Linked DNA regions of Homo sapiens. The protein of the gene in region 2 purifies or fractionates together with the protein of the main gene of each other region. This does not show direct contact. Each region holds a gene or a part of one and is shown on either strand. Other genes may lie near its edges.

Region 1 (3,652 bases), on a different chromosome or scaffold from region 2:
CTCTACTAAAAATCCAAAATTTAGCCAGGTGTGGTGGCGGGTGCCTATAATTCCAGCTCCGTGGGAGGCTTAGGCAGGAGAATCTCTTGAACCTGGGAAGTGGAGGTTGCAGTGAGCTGAGATCGTGACACTGCACTCTAGCCCGGGTGACAGAGACACCATCTCAAAAAATAAAAAATGCTTTTAGTCTAGAACCACTTTAACCCCCTTGTTGTATGTGGGTCTGAAGCTCTGGGCAGCCCTAGCCCCCACTCCTGACTCTGCCCCTAACTCATACCACTCTGCTACATTCCATGTGAGTTGAATGCATGTTCATAGTTATTTTAGGTGTAGCAAAACTACATCTCATTTTAACCTTCTCATTTAAAACTCGTTAAAATTTGTACATAGGCTTTTCATCTCTTATTAGATCTTCCTTTTGCCCTATGCTATCATTAAAATGTGAAAGCAATTGGAAATACATGAAATATTTTGCTTTTATCCCCATGGCATTGTTGTAACATGGACTGTTGCCCCTTTTTAACTCTGCCCAATACTCTTCCATTGAGGCCGTACATACTGTGCATTTGTAGATTAACAGTTTCATTGTGGTTCAGGTACTTTAATGATTCCTACTTTTTCTAGAAATCTTTTTGTAGTTGACTTGAGTTGGTTGGCTGGCCAGTGATGGTACAGACTTTTTTCTCATGGATTTTCTATGATGTGTGGGAGGCACATCCTCTTGGCTGTAGAAGATGAAGAGGACAGAAATTTCCTTGGTCTACCTTCTTTGCAGCTAGAACATGATCAGTCAGATACTCCTACTCGTGATTTTGTCTCTGATTTGCCTATAGATTGTACATGAATACTATAGCCACCTTCATATGGCAGTGCCAGCAAAAGCAAGGAGATAGTAGTGACGGTATCAAGAGCAGCATCCCAGGTTGACTTTCTTTGGGGCAGGACCTTGCTTGTGTCTTAACCCTTGGTTCCTACCCAAGTTTGTCTCTCTAGTCCTCAACTCTGAAAGCCACTTGATATCTTACACAATTCCTTTTTTGCCTGAGAAAATAAAAGTCAGTTTTGATCATTTACAACCAAAAATCCTAACTAACACAGACCTGTTTTTGAAATCAGGTAGATTGGAAGTCTTGGTTTACTTCTTATAAGCCCGTCCGCTGTCTGTCTTGTAACATCCCAGGAGCAGACTTAACAAGGCCTTCCTGGAGCCTTGCTCTTTCTGTCTGCTTCCCTCATCTGCTCTCTCTCCTCTCTCTTCACAGGGTCCACTTCCTAACACATGCTGCCATTTCTGGCTTATGGTTTGGCAGCAGAAGACCAAAGCAGTTGTCATGCTGAACCGCATTGTGGAGAAAGAATCGGTGAGTAATATTTAATATTTACAACTTAGTATACTGTATGTGATCATTAGCATATAAAGATTTTCATTTTGGGGCCAATATTCATTCCTTAGTTTTGGCCTTTAATTGCTAAAGGCTAGCGGTCAAAGTGTTTCTGTCCGGAAAAACTCATGTATCCTTTTCCTTTCTTAAGTATTTTTATAACAATTGCAGACCTTTCATCTCCAAGATAGAAATACAATGGAATAAATATGGACTAGCAGTGACATATAGATCTTTGGAATCCCTAGGAATCCTTATTGACCTATTGTCAATAAGTCCTCTTCCAGCTTTAAGATCTTGTACTGTTCTACTTCAGATTTCTTACTTTATTCTACATTTCATAATTGCTGGTTTTTAATGATGATGAAAATTTCCTAATCCACTTCTAATTAGATGTGGCAATGACATGCCAGAATTTCCAGCAGTATCAGCATAGTCATTTACAGGGGTTTTTCCTGATCTTCAATATCATTTAAAAATTAAGGATTAGGCCAGGCACGGTGCCTCAAACCTGTAATCCCAGCACTTTGGGAGGCCGAGGCAGGCAGATCACTTGAGGTCAGGAGTTTGAGACCAGCCTGGCCAACATGGTGAAACCCCGTCTCTACTAAAAATACAAAATTAGCCAGGTGTAATGCTAGCTACTTGGGAGGCTGAGGCAGGAGAACCGCTTGAACCTAGGAGGTGGAGGTTGCAGTGAGCCGAGATTGTGCCACTGCACCTCAACCTGGATGATAGAATGAGACTCCATCTCAAAACCCACTGCACTGCAGCCTGGGCGGTAGAGTGAGACTCCATCTCAAAAAAGAAAAAAAAAAAAATCAAGGATTATGACATTGTCAGTTTGAGCACCATTGTAGACTACATGATTTGCAAATTTTATTTCTCTCATTTTGGAGTATAATTACTGTATTAATAAGATAACACTGCCACCAGAATTTAGAAATCATGTTTATGGTGGTTGAACCTAGATGGTTAACAAGAGTCAGGTTTAATTATTTTGGGGAAGATTACTTCAGAGGTGGTGGGTAATGTGTTATTCATCAAGAGACCCATAATGTCTGATTATTGTTCTTTTTATTTCATTAATAGCCATTATTGGTCAGTGTTCAGCTTCTTAATTCATTATGGGTTACAAATGATGATAATCCAATTCTGTCATTACTTCTCTTAAAAGCAGTTTTCCAAAAAAAAGTTGATTCCCTATTGAGGTCATCTGTTCTCAACAGATGACCAATTAGGAGTTTTTCTGGTGGAGAGTGGCAGGAGAGGTTGAATTATTATGGGTTTGGACATACTGGATTAATTTTACTCCTTTGCAGTTATTTTCCTTATTTTTGATCAAATTACCCTGTCATTGGCTAGCAGCAATGTCTTTAGGTTGGGTCCTGAGTCCTCTTTTTTTTTTTTTTTTTTTGGAGACAGAGTCTCGCCTGTTGCCCAGGCTGGAGTGCAGTGGCATGATTTCAGCTCACTGCAGCCTCCACTTCCCGGGTTCAAGAGATTCTCCCGTCTCAGCCTCCCGAGCAACTGGGATTACAAGCACCCACCACCATGCCCAGCTAGTTTTTGTAGAGATGGTTTTACCATGTTGGCCAGGCTGGTCTCAAGTTCCTGACCTCAAGTGATACGCCCACCTCGGCCTCCCAAAGTGCTGGGATTACAGGCGTGAGCCACCTCACCCAGCTCTGAGTCCTTTTTAACAAACCTTTAATAGTTTCCTTGGCTGGGTGCAGTGGCTCACACCTGTAATCTCAGCACTTTGGGGAGCTGAGTTGGGTGGATCGCTTGAGCCCAGGAGTTTGAGACCAGCCTGGGCAACATGGTGAAACTCTGTCTCTACAAAAAATACAAAAATTAGCTGGGTGTGGTGGCGCATGCCTGTAGTCCCAGCTACCTGGGGTACTGAGGCAGGAGGATCACTTGAGGCCAGGAAGTCAAGGCTACAGTTAGCTATGGTCGTGCCACTGCACTCCAGCCTGGGGACAGAGCGAGACCCTGTCTCAAAAAAAAAAAATTTTTTTTGCTGTCTGTAATGACTGCATCTCAGGCTCATCTCAAACTCTTGCTGCCCAGACCTGGAACCAGCCATTTCTCTAAGGAGTTTTGGTTTCTTTTAATGGGCAGCAGTATTTCAAGATCACAGCAAAAATAAGGATATATATTGCAACTGGACTGGTCATTGTTTTTAGGGCTTTTCAGTGGACAAAAGCTAAGGAACAATATGCATATGTTAAGATAACATACTTCAAGAGTTCATAATGATATTC
Region 2 (3,431 bases):
CCCAGCTACCTGGAAGGCTGAGAGTTGGGAGGATCATCTGAGCCCAAAAGGTCAAGGCTGCGGTGAGCCGTGATGGTGCCAATGCACTCCAGCCTGGGTGACAGAGACCTTGTCTCAAAAACAAGGAAGAAAAAAGAAAGGACTTGCCAAGTAAGGTCCTCTGGGGTACACAGACCTGACATGAGGGATAATCTTCCCGTTACGGGGTTCCAGGGGAAGATCCCCTCCTAAAGAAAGAGAACCAAGTATTTCTAATGGGTAAGATCTAAAAACACTTCTCTGCACTCCCTCCTCTCCTTAACAGACTGACACTACTTTCTAAGGATGACAACCTAACTGAAATACAGACAGTCTCTGACTTACAATTTTTCAAGTTTACAATGGGTTATCAGGGTATTAAATGCATTTTCTACTTATGATGGATTTATCAGGATATAACCCCATCGTAGGCTGAAGAGCATCTGTATGCTTCAACTGAAAGGTCAGGGTCCATTTTTAAAGGGCCTGTGGAAAGAAGAGCCAGGTGGTGAATGGTGACAATGCCTATTTTCCATGGCACTGCTCATTAAGTCAACCTCGGTATAATTAGGAAAGACAAAATTCAAGCCAGTCTTGGAATCATTGGTTTAATGGTTCTGAATAAATGGTTAAGATTGATGTTTCCAGCCAAGTGAGATTTGGGTTTAGATATAGTTTGGGCTTAAGTATCCTTTATCTCAGATTAAATGAGACAGTGCATGTAAACCACTTAGAAGAATGCCTGGAACACATTAACTTTCATTACTAATGTTTTTGGTCATTCTTAAACATTTTCACTTCTGCCACCACCCTTTATGCAGTCTGGCACATAGCTGTCACTCAGCAAATGTGAGCAAACAAACACTAGAGACTTTAGTCTGCCAGGTCTCTAACATGCAAAGCCATGGGGCCAGGTCCATACACTCCCTCCACTGAGAAAAAGACAAATGGCTTAGGCTACAAGGTTTGGGTCACCAAGGAAAGCTGTCAAATAATGAAGTGGGTAAGCAGATTCCTAAAAATTGGAACCATTTCAGCAGCAGTTTCATCCACAGGGAGACAGAGTAAATGCTCTCTCAAATCTGTCTCACATCTATAGAAACCTTACTCTATTTATGGTCTTTTGGCATCTTGCTCTGCTATCTCACTTGAGATCACTCCTATAGAACTAATAGAGGAATAAATCAAAAGCAAACCAGTATAAGTAGAGACGCAATAAAATTTGGATGTCTTGAGTTCTGAGGGGCTTGCACACACTTGTTAAGGCATGCAGTGTGTGCTAGGGGCTTCAGCAGGGAACTCCACTCAAGGACGTGGTGTAGGAAGCAAAGACAAACCAACCCAAGTGGTACTGAAGAGGACAAGATGGGAAGGACATTTTTATTTTCCCTAATCTTCAGGCAACCTCACCAAGCTGGAGGTCACATGTAGCTGAGTGTGAAACCAAGAAAAATACGAAGCTTCAAAAGTACTGTGCGTTGTATTTCTTCATTCTCTGGCAGGCTGGGAGTCCAAGGTCAGTCTAGGCAGGAGGGCTGCTTGGCCTAAGCAGTCACACAATTTTCACCGTCTTGAGCATATCTGACAAGACATACGTGTCATCCCAACCCCTCCCAGGCTTCCTCAGGGTCCGCTCCAAAGCCTGGGCTGTTTCTAGGAGCTCTGGTGTGGCAAGTTTTTGCTCAGGGTGCAGCTGACAGAACAGGATCTCATTCACTTCACCCTCAATTCGCCGGACATATAGGAGGGGGAACACTGCCTTGAGCCCAGCCAGCACTGAGTCTTTTAGCCCCAAGTCTCGGCACACAAGGTTGAGAATAAAAACACCTATAGGGTAGGAAGAAAAGTCAGAATGACCTCACATCAGGAGACATATGAAAGACAAGGATCGGCTTTGAGGAAAATACCAATTCCTGTCCCAGGGAGACTGGTGGACTAAAACACACGGTGGTGATGAGTTTGCAGAGAATACACAGCATAGAAAGGCAGATGGAGAAAAGCATGGGGAGCATGTGAGCCATAAACAAACTCCAGCCTTATTTCTTGCTCTTCTGTGCTGCTCACATGTTATTTTACCATTCTCCAAGCCTCAGTTTCCCAAATAGCTTCTCAAAGAATAGCTTTGAGAAAGAAGTGATTCCCAGCTGGGCACGGTGGCTCATGTCTATGATCCCATCACTTTGGGAGGCTGAGGCAGGCGGATCACTCGAAGTCAGGAGTTTGAGACCAGCCTGGCCAAAATGGTGAAACCCCGGCTCTACTAAAAATATAAAAATTAGCTGGGCATGGTGGTGGACGCCTGTAATCCCAGCTGCTAGGGAGGCTGAGGCAGGAGCTGCTAGTGGGGCTGAGGCAGGAGAATCTCTTGAACCCAGGAGGCAGAGGTTGCAGTGAGCCAAAATCCAGCCTGGGTGACGGAATGAGACTTTGTCTCAATCAATCAATAGAAAGTGATTCCCTACGAAAGTAAAATTTACCAACTCCACAGGGATATTACATTCTTGGCATACACACCATAGAGTATTAACCAGTGACAGGGCCGAGGTTATCTTGACTTCTGACAATTAAGATTCCAAATCAAGCCAGTTACCACAGTGCCTTACACCAAATCAAAAATACCTAGAGGGTTGTTAACATAGGGATTAAAGGCTCCAGTTTTGAGGTGACAAGGCACTGACTTTGAGCCCCAACTGTTACCTTGCGTCACCTTGGCAAATCTTCAACCTCAGTTTCCTCATCCAAAAAGTGGACTGCTATGAAGATTAAATAACACACTGCCTAGTAGAGCACGTGTAGGAAGCATCATGTAGTAGCTAGCATCACCATGCTGGTGGGAGTGTGAACTGCTACAACCACTTTGTAAAACTGTGTGGTAGCATCTACAAAAGCCAAAAACATACCCATAACCTATGATCCAGCAATTACAACCCTGTGTATATACCCAAGAGATCTGAAAACATAATTCATCAAAAGGCATATACTAGAATGTTAATGGCAGCACCACTTATAATAGACCCACACAGGAAACAAACCAAATACGAACAGTAGAATGGATAAGCGAATTGTGTTAAGTTACATGATATAACACAGCAATAAAAATAAGCCATGTAAACACAACACTGTGAATGAGTCTCACAAACATCATGTTGAGTGAAAGAAAATGGACACTTAAAGAGTACATTCAGCCAAGTTCAGTGGCTCATGCCTGTAATCCCAGCACTTTGGGAGGCCAAGGTAGGAGGATCGCTTGAGGCTAGGAGTTTGAGACCAGCCTGGGCAACATGTTGAGATCCTATCTCTACAAAAAATAAAAATAAAAAAATTAGCCAGGCATGGTGGCATCCACCTGTAGTCCCAGCTACTCAGGTGACTGAGGTGGGAGGATTCCTTGAGACCAGGAGTTTGAGGCTACA
Region 3 (3,652 bases), on a different chromosome or scaffold from region 2:
AGAATTGCTTGAACATGGGAGGCAGAGATTGCAGGGAGCTGAGATGGCACCACTGCACTTTAGCCTAGGCAACAGAAGGAGACTCCTTTTTTTGTTTTGGTTTGTTGTTAAAGGGCCACAAGTCACCTTGTGCCTTAATCTCATTAGCTCCTAAACAACCATCACCTTACCAAAAAGGACCAATGGCAAATTTAGAAAATGATTTCTCTCTAACCAGTCACCAGGGCCTGCTACTGCAAGAGCGGTGCTGTGAGTACTGCCTGACTTTCTGATTTTTCACAGTGACATGGAATAAGCACAACCCCTAAGCACGTTTGCAGTGGCTGGGCCTGAGGGGTGTGTGTTCCTGACAGGGCAGAGCTTTCTCCAAAGCACCTCACCTCCCTCGGAGTCGAACCGCATCTTGAAATCTCCTCTCGTCCATCGCCTTCTGCACATCCTGAGTCTTTTAAAACAATGATGAAAAGAAGAAAGAATGTGTCAGGACCTGGTGCATCATGGATGGGGTAGGTAGAGACTGGCTCGGTCCTTCCCACCAGCCCCCTCCAGTCTGACCCGGGCAGCCAGCAGCCCCAGGGTTAATGGTCTAGACGACCGGCCGCCAAGTGTGTCCTAATGCTGGTTGGCAGCCAGCCCCACACGGCCCGGCTGTGAGGTCAGAGCCCTGGGACTGCTTAGCTCAGGAGGCTTCTGAGGAAAAAGAGAAGGTGTCACCTGCTGTTTGTGGACACAACACTGTGAAGATTTAACTCCAAGAGAACAAAGCCAGAGGAAATGAAATCTCTCAGGCATGGTTCTAAGGAATTCTCAATTTGATTATGGTGGGGAAAAACAAAACAGAACACACCAGCTCACTGGGGGATGTGGGATGGGAGCGAGGTCACAGCGGGCGGGGGAGCAGAGGGGCCCGGATGGAGGCCCTGGGACACGGGGCTGGGACTGATGCACGCCAGGCAGCCCTGGGCAACGTCAGGATCTTGGTCAAGTTCTTTCTCGCTCTGAACTTCAATTTCCTCATCTGTAAGATGAGAAAAATACTCCTACTTCCAGCTATCTCTAAGGTTATTCAAGCATGTCAGACCCTCAGGAAGACGCCTGACAAACAGCAGGTGCACAGTAGTGGTCCCTCAGCTTTAAAAACAAAGCCACACAAGGGTGGTTTCAAGGTCAGGGCAAGTGACACCTACCACGGTCGTCTCTAGACAAGCAGAGACATGAGACACAGGCTCAAAATACACGTACCGCATGTCGTTCAGTGCTCTGAGCCTTTTAAGCCTACTGCCTCTCACATGCACACAGGCACACACTAACGTGCAGACACACACTACCTCACACTCCAACATACACACATATGCACATAAGCATACCTGCACACACAAACATGCAGACACACGCTACCTCACACTCATGCCAACATGCACACATCTGCATAGAAACATACCTGCACACACACACAAACATGCAGGCACATACTACCTCTCACAAACATACACACACATCCATATAAACACATGCACACACAGACATGCACACACTATCTCAAACATGCTCACACATGCATATAAGCATACATGCACACACATGCAGATGCATTACCTCACACACATATATACACATGCATATAAACATACATGCACACACTAACATGCAGAAACATACTACCTCACACTCAAATGTACACATGCATATACACACATGCACACACACTAACATGCACACACACTACCTCACAAAAACATGCACACACGTACAAACATGCATGCACACAAACATGCACACACATACATGCAGACATACTACCACAAACATGCATACTCATGCATATAAACATACACATACATGCAGACCCAAACTACCTCACAAACATGCACACACATGCATAAATATATGCATAAACCTGCATGTATATGCATATACAGAGATACACATGCACACACATATACATACATACACACAGAGACACAAGCCTGCGCACACACTCACACACATACACACAAATACTATTTTCTCCCTTGGGCTTTTGGAAATTATGTTTACAAGGTGACTTTCAACAAGTCCCTGACTTGATTGCTTCACGACTTCTTTGTGTGTGTTAAGAGGCAACAAAACAGGAGTCACGAATCATGAATGAACTCTGAAAAATAAAACAACAGCTGGGCGTGGTGGCTCATGCCTGTAATCCCAGCACTTTGGGAGGCCGAGGTGGATGGATCACAAGGTCAGGAGATCCAGACCATCCTGGCTAACACGGTGAAACCCCACCTCTACTAAAAATACAAAAAAAAAAAAAAAAAAAAAAAATTAGCCAGGCGTGGTGGTGGGCACCTGTAGTCCCAGCTACTCGGAAGGCTGAGGCAGGAGAATGGCGTGAACCCAGGAGGCGGAGCTTGCAGTGAGCCAAGATCACGCCACTGCACTCTAGCCTGGGCAACAGTGAGACTCCGTCTCTAAATAAATAAATTAATTAATTAAATAACTTCAAATGCAGCTAACTCCACAGCCACCTCCACTACTGAACCAATGCCTGAAAAGCTGGAACTGCTTTTCCCTTTGTTCATTTGCAGGCAGACAGTTCCCTGGCCCAAGAAGGGTGGGTGTATCTTCGGGTGACCAGAGCTTTCCCTGTGTCCCATCACAGACCTGAATGTCCTTGGGGATAGGAGGACAGGAAATGGCTGAAACTGGAGAAGTTTGGGAAGGTCCCACCTTCCCCTACAAAATACCACCCTGTAGATCTCTCTCACGCCCGCCTCCCTGCCTCCCTGCCCCCTCTGCCCCATGGGTCTCTCTCACGCCCGCCTCCCTGCAGTCTGTCCACGGATCTCTCTCTCTCGGCTGCCTCCCTGCACTCTGTCCTTCTGCAGCACCTGGTGCACTGGGGCCACCTGGATCCTCGACTGTTGAGGATCCCGATGCTCTAGACCCCCACTCAGGGGAGGTTACGACTATGTGCCACACAGATGGATGGTAACTTAGAAAACCAAAGAGCGAAGACGGCGCAGGCTCTGCAGGTGTGGGAGAGAACATAAGCCTTCTCCCTCCCCACGGGCAGCTCACCTCCTTCTCAGAAAGGCCGTGTAATGCATCGTGCACCGACGAGACACCCAAGGTGCCCAGGCTGGCCTGACAAGCAGCTTCTGTCCCAGCCGTCTCCGCCCTGCCCTTGGCCATGGGCTGCCCACTCACCATCTGCACGCACTCCATCAGCGGCAGGCGCACGGCGTGGTTCCCGTTCAGTGACACGACGCAAGCTGGGGTGTCCGGGGTGGCCTCTAGCAAGGCGATGACTGCCTCCACTCCCATGCGGCTGGCCTGGAAACCAGGTCCATGTGGGTCAGGGGCAGCCTCCCGTCCTGCCCTGTCCCTGTCACCTCCTATCTTTCCATGACGTCCAATGACCTCAGTCAGGTGCTCACAGCCCCTCCCGCTTCCAGCCCAACTCTTTAGAGCAAAGCGATTTCCACTCCTTTAGAACTGGCAAGACGGGAACAGAGAGGAGGTCAGGGCACATGGAGAGCAGGAGTGTTAAGAACTGAGGGTTTGTACTTGGGATTCCTGCTGCCCTGAGTCAGTTTCCAGAAACTCACTAGAAACACAGCCTTTCTGCCCTGGGATTGTGCCCTCTGGGGTCCACGTCGTGCCAACACCAAGC

Evidence for each region.
Region 1: the proteins of METTL13 (region 2) and PTPN2 fractionate together in Homo sapiens (co-fractionation; one large-scale study listed by BioGRID). This does not show direct contact.
Region 3: the proteins of METTL13 (region 2) and PFKP fractionate together in Homo sapiens (co-fractionation; one large-scale study listed by BioGRID). This does not show direct contact.

What each region holds. Positions count from the first base shown.
Region 1 is NC_000018.10:12,828,652-12,832,303, reverse strand, and holds part of PTPN2 (tyrosine-protein phosphatase non-receptor type 2), read left to right. Parts: intron 1-1,262; coding exon 1,263-1,361; intron 1,362-3,652. UniProt on the Homo sapiens protein: Non-receptor type tyrosine-specific phosphatase that dephosphorylates receptor protein tyrosine kinases including INSR, EGFR, CSF1R, PDGFR.
Region 2 is NC_000001.11:171,794,896-171,798,326, reverse strand, and holds the end of METTL13 (eEF1A lysine and N-terminal methyltransferase), read right to left. Parts: intron 1,846-3,431; coding exon 1,571-1,845; 3' UTR 611-1,570; downstream 1-610. UniProt on the Homo sapiens protein: Dual methyltransferase that catalyzes methylation of elongation factor 1-alpha (EEF1A1 and EEF1A2) at two different positions, and is therefore involved in the regulation of mRNA translation.
Region 3 is NC_000010.11:3,109,015-3,112,666, reverse strand, and holds part of PFKP (ATP-dependent 6-phosphofructokinase, platelet type), read right to left. Parts: intron 3,313-3,652; coding exon 3,187-3,312; intron 446-3,186; coding exon 381-445; intron 1-380. UniProt on the Homo sapiens protein: Catalyzes the phosphorylation of D-fructose 6-phosphate to fructose 1,6-bisphosphate by ATP, the first committing step of glycolysis.